2 separate regions of the Homo sapiens genome follow, and region 2 is linked to region 1. A link means that fine-mapping ties the variant in region 1 to the expression of a gene that starts in the linked region. Tissue or cell type: whole blood. Region 1 holds a variant in brackets; the other region holds the start of a gene. All regions are shown on one strand. Distances are from middle to middle.

What was found. PIP is the estimated chance that this variant, and not a neighbour inherited with it, causes the effect.
Region 2: SIN3B starts here. The variant in region 1 is fine-mapped to the expression of SIN3B in whole blood (TOPMed, PIP above 0.99). The same link has a PIP of 0.9 or more in blood mononuclear cells, monocytes and neutrophils.

The regions. Positions count from the first base shown.
Region 1 is chr19:16,801,097-16,803,851 of GRCh38, reverse strand. All of the region lies in intron 17 of NWD1 (NACHT and WD repeat domain containing 1), which reads right to left. All of the region lies in intron 2 of LOC124904648 (a long non-coding RNA gene), which reads left to right. Among named protein-coding and RNA genes, the nearest start is that of SIN3B, 27 kb to the left of the region's middle. The variant G/A (reference allele first, on the strand shown) is at 1,305.
Region 2 is chr19:16,828,264-16,831,018 of GRCh38, reverse strand. It overlaps SIN3B (SIN3 transcription regulator family member B), which reads right to left and starts at 1,621. Exons shown (of 19, transcript NM_001297595.2): 1 at 1,479-1,621; 2 at 1,122-1,228. The coding sequence starts at 1,598. RefSeq lists a silencer at 1,474-1,653 and an enhancer at 1,394-1,895.

The DNA of each region.
Region 1 (2,755 bases):
CCAGGTTCAAGCAATTATCCTGCCTCAGCCTCCCCAGTAGCTGGGATTACAGGCACACACCACCACGCCCAGATAATTTTTTTTTTTTTTTTTTTTAAGTAGAGTTGGGGTTTCGCCATGTTGGCCAGGCTGGTCTCCAACTCCTGACCTCAAATGATCCGCCCACCTCAGCCTCCCAAAGTTCTGGGATTACAGGTGTGAGCCACCACACCTGGCCATGACTAGCTAGTTTCCACCTGATTGAAGTTATAGGCGTGTTATGGACTGAAGATTTGTGTCCCCCTGACAAATTCCTATGTTAAAATCATCACCCTCTGTGGAATGGTATCAGGAGCTTGGGCCTGTCTTAGTTCATTGGTGTTGCTAATGAAAACCTGTTTTTGACTAGCTACTTTCTACCTGATTGAAGTTATAGGAATGTTATGGACTGAAGATTTGTGTCCCCACCCCCCCACCAAATTCCTATGTCAAAATCCTCACTCCCCATAGGATGGTATTAGGAGCTGGGGCCTGTCTAAGTCTGTTGGTGTTGCTATGAAGGACTACCTGAGGCTGGGTAACTGAGATGGTTTGGCTGTGTCCCCACCCAAATCTCATTTTGAATTGCAATAATTCCCACAGGTCAAGGCCGAGGCCAGCTGGAGATAATTGAATCATGGAGGCAGTCTCCCCCATACTGTTCTTGTGGTAGCGAATAAGTCTCATGAGATCTGATGGTTTTGTAAAGGGCAATTCCCCTGCACACACTCTCTTGCCTGCCACCATGTAAGACGTGACTTTGCTCCTCATTTGCCTTCTGCCATGATTGTGAGGCCTTCCCAGCCATGTGCAAATGTGAGTCCATTAAACCTCTTTCCTTTACAAATTACCCAGTCTCAGGTATGTCTTTTTTTTTTTTTTTTTTGAGACAGAGTCTGACTCTTGCCCAGGCTGGAGTGCAGTAGCAAGATCTTGGCTCACTGCAATTGCCACCTCCTGGGTTCAAGCGATTTCTGGCTAAGTTTTGGAATTTTAGTAGAGACAGGGTTTTACCATGTTGGCCAGGCTAGTCTCGAACACCTGACCTCAAATGATGCGCCTGCCTTGGCCTCCCAAAGTGCTGGGATTACAGGTGTGAGCCAGCAGGCCCGGCCTCAGGTATGTCTTTATTAGCAGTGTGAGAACAGACTAATACAGTAATGCATAATTATGAATAAGAGGTTTATGTGGCTCATTGTTCTGCAGGCTGTACAGGAAGCATGGTGCCAGCTTCTGCTTCTGGTGAGGGCCCCAGGCTGCTTCTTCTTAATACAAAAGGTGAAGGG[G/A]GTTGGGGTGTGCAGAGGTCATACGGCCAGAGGAAGCAAGAGAGAGGGAAGTGCTAGCTTCCTTTTTTTTTTTTTTTTTTTTTTAATTGAGATAGGGTCTTGCTCTGTCACCTAGGCTGGAGTGCAGTGGTGCAATCACAGTTCACTGCAGCCTCAAATTCCTGGGCTCAAGCGATCATCCTGCCTCCATCTCTCAAGTAGCTGAGACTACAGGTGAATATCACCATGCCCAGCTCATTATTTTTATTTTTATTTTTATTTATTTATTTATTTTTGAGACAGAGTCTTGCTCTGTCACCCAGGCTGGAGTGCAATGGTGCTCAATGCAACCTCTGCCTGCCGGGCTCAAGCGATTCTCCTGCCTCCCTCCTGAACAGCTGGGATTACAGGTGCCCGCCACCACGTCCGGCTAATTTTTGTATTTTTAGTAGAGATGGGGTTTCACCATGTTGGCCAGGCTAGTCTTGAGCTCCTGACCTCGTGATCCACCCAACTCAGCCTCCCAAAGTGCTGGGACTACAGGCGTGAGCCACCATGCCCGGCCATTATTTTTATTTTTATTGCGACAAGGTCCATGTTGCCCAGGCTGGTCTTGAACTCCCGGCCTCAAGCAATCTTCCTGTTTCTGCCTCCTGAGTAGCTGGGGTCAGGTTCTTTTTAACAACCTCGCGAGAACTAACAGAGTTAGAACTTACTCACCACCACCACTGCCTTGCCAGGAGAGGGCATTAATCTATCCACGAGGGATGTGTCCTTATGACTCAAACACCTCCCGTGAGGCCTCCCTCCAACACTGGGGATTAAATTTCTTTTTTTATTGTTGTTTTGTTTTCAAACAGGGTCTTGTTCTGTCGTCCAGGCTGGAGTGCAGTGGCACAATCTCAGCTCACTGCAACTTCTGCCTCCTGGGCTCAAGTGATCCTACCACCACAGCCTCCCAAGTAGCTTGGACTACAGATGTGAGCCACTACACCGAGCTAATTTTTGTCTTTTATGTAGAGACGTCTGGTCTCAAACTCCTGAGCTCAAGTGATCCGCCCACCTCAGCCACCCAAAGTGCTGGGATCACAGGTGTGAGCCATCACGCCTGGCTTTTTTGTTTGTTTTTAGAGACAGGGTCTCACTCTGTCACCCAGGCTGGAGTGCAGTAGTGCGATCATGACTCACTGTAGCCTCAACTTCCCAGGCTCAAGCGATCCTCCCACCTTAGCCCCCAAAATAGCTAGAACAACAAGCACATGCCACCATATCCAGCTAATTTTTTTTTTGAGACAGAGTTTTGCTCTTGTTGCCCAGGCTGGAGTGCAATGGCGTGATCTCGGCTCACTGCAACCTCTGCCTCCCAGGTTCAAGCTATTCTTCTGCCTCAGCCTCCTGAGTAGCTGGGATTACAGGCATGCACCACCACGCCCAGCTAATTTTGTATTGCTTTAGTGGAGGTGGGGTTTTTC
Region 2 (2,755 bases), 27 kb before region 1:
TGGCTAGGCCTGAGCTCCCTGTTCCCTCCTGGTGAGAACCAGAGAATACTGACATCGCTCAGCTCCCCTAAAACACTCCAAGAATGGGTACTCGGTTCTGAAAATGTCAGGAGAGCCAACCGCAAGGCCTGGACTCCAAGAAATGGCAGGAGGCCAAAGTCCTCTAAGCAATGTGAAAACTTCCCTCATTTTGTATCAGATAGAGATGACTATGACACAGGTTTCCATCTGAGCAAACAATTGCAATGCATAAATACCAATGGTACTGCCAAGAATGGGAAAGGTGTAAGAAAAATAGGAGGGGAGAGATGGGGTCTCCCTTCTGGCTGCATTGCAGCCCAGCCCTTAGCACTGGGCTCCCGGAAGGAAACCAGGCCAGCCCCACCATGTTTCCTAAGAGGGGGCAGCAGTATGGTAAGCATGTGACTTCCAAGAATCTGAGTCAGAGGGTCTGAGTTCTAGTGACACCTCTGCCACTTAGGTGGGTCCCTTACCCACTCCAAACCTCAGTGAGTCTCCTATAAAAACAAGGGCATGATCCCAGGGTTTCCCATCTATCTGTAATCTTCCTTGATTCTGGGCCTGCAAAATCATCTCATGTGTTTTAAACGTTTTCTGTGTGCCAGCTCCCTTACTAAGCATTTTATGCGTCTTACTTCCAAGCAGGCCTGGGACCACAGTGAGCCCAGAGAAGCATCTTGAGGACAAGATTAAAGGGGAAGAGGGTGCCAAAAATTTCAATCATCAAGACAATAACATTTTACAGCGCTTGAAAATAAAAATCAAAATGGGTCCCACCAAATCTTTCATGAACAAAACTAATATAAAAATCAACATATTAAATCAAGGCAGGATTTGACTCTATGAGTGTGCACGGCCTCGCCCTCCCTGCCTCCCCCCAGATCCCTGTCCTGCTTCCAGGAATCCCCACAAAGCTCCACAAGGTGGGTACTACCCATTTCCATTTTTGTTACGAGAAGGAGCTAGGGCTCTGAGAGATTGGACAACCTGCGCAAGGTCACCCGGCTAAGGGGGCAGGCTGGAGAGGGGAGGTCTCACCCCGCTAGGCCCGATTCCGGCCCAGGGGGGTCCCCTGAGGTGGAGAGGGGCCCCGCTGGTACCTCTGGCTTTTGAACTCCTTCATGATCTCCAGGAAGCCGTTGTAGGTGGCAGGGTCGCTGCCAAAGCGGATCTTCACCTGGTCCAGATAGGTGAGGGCGTCTTCTACCTGCAGAGAGGGGGAGGGTCCCGGTGGGCCCTGGCCGCGGAACGAGGGGACGAGGGGCCGGGGTCCCTGAGGGGAAGGGGATGGGCTGGGCTTTCGGAGGGCCGAGGTGAGAGGTGAGGGGTGAGGGGTCCGGGGCAGTGCAGAGGGGAGGCCGAGGTGGGGCTGGGGCCGGGCGGGGCCTGGGTGAGGGGCGCCCGCCCGCGGGGTCCAGAAGATGGGTTCCCCGAGGGAGGGCGGGGACGCCACTCACGTGCACCGGCAGCTTCTCGTGGCCTGCGGAGCCCGAGCGACCCCAGCGGGCGCCGCTCAGCCCCCGGCCCGCGGGGCCGCCGGCACCGCTGCCACCGCTGCCACCGCCAGCGTGCGCCATGTCCGAAGTCGGAGCTGCGCCCCGCCCCGCCCCCGCCCGAGGTCCTGCCGCGCATGCGCAGCCTCCGCCTTTGGAGGCGGGGTTTGATGACGTTGAGGGGCGGTGCTCTTTGAGGGACTCTTCTGAAGACCTTCTCCTTAAGATTGGTATCATAATTAATGATTTATATAGCAGGGGTAGGCGAGCCAAGACCCGCCGCCTACTTTGTCCGGCCCCGCAAGCTCAGAATTATTTTTACATGTTTACATAGCCGGGGGAAAAATCCAAAGAAGAATAGTCTATGACCTGTGAAAAGTTTGTGAAATTCACATTTGAGGGTCCCTGAATAAAGTTTTATTAGCACACAGACACGCCCACGCGTTTACCTGGCTTCTCTGCCTGCTTTCGCCTTACAACAGAGTAGGTAGTTGCTAAAGATCCTACAGATCTGCAGACCCTGAAGTATTTACGATCTGGCCTTTTATGGAAAAAGTTTGTTGGCCCCTGCTTTATAGAGTTGACGGGACGATGAGGTATGAGCCCCCAGCGCCCTAATATAGGGCCTTGCGTGGTGAATTTTTGCTAAATGGCCTTTAAGTTAGTCCTACTCCTCCCATCTTCACTTCCCTATCCTTGGCCCCGTCACTTCCCATCTGGACCAGTTTAGGAGCCTCCTAACTCTGGTACTTTCTTTTTTTTTTTTTTTTTTTTTTTTTTTTTTTGAGACAGAGTCTCGCTCTGTCGCCCAGGCTGGAGTGCAGTGGCGCGATTTCCGCTCACTGCAAGCTCCGCCTCCCGAGTTCACACCATTCTCCTGCCTCAGCCTCCTGAGTAGCTGGGACTACAGGCGCCCGCCACTGCGCCCTGCTAATTTTTTGTACTTTTAGTGCCACCCCACCTGGCTCTAACTCTGGTACTTTCTCAGCCCTGATACTATCAAGAACTCTAGGCTGGGGATGGTGGCTCACGCCTGTAATCCCAGCACTTTGGGAGGCCGAGGCGGACGGATCACGAGGTCAGGAGATAGAGACCATCCTGGCTAACACGGTGCAACCCCGTCTCTACTAAAAATACAAAAAATTAGCCGGGCCTTGAAAAAAAGAAAAAGAAAATGAAAAAATTGGCTGGGCGCCGTGGCTCACGCCTGTAATCCCAGCACTTTGGGACGCCGAGGCGGG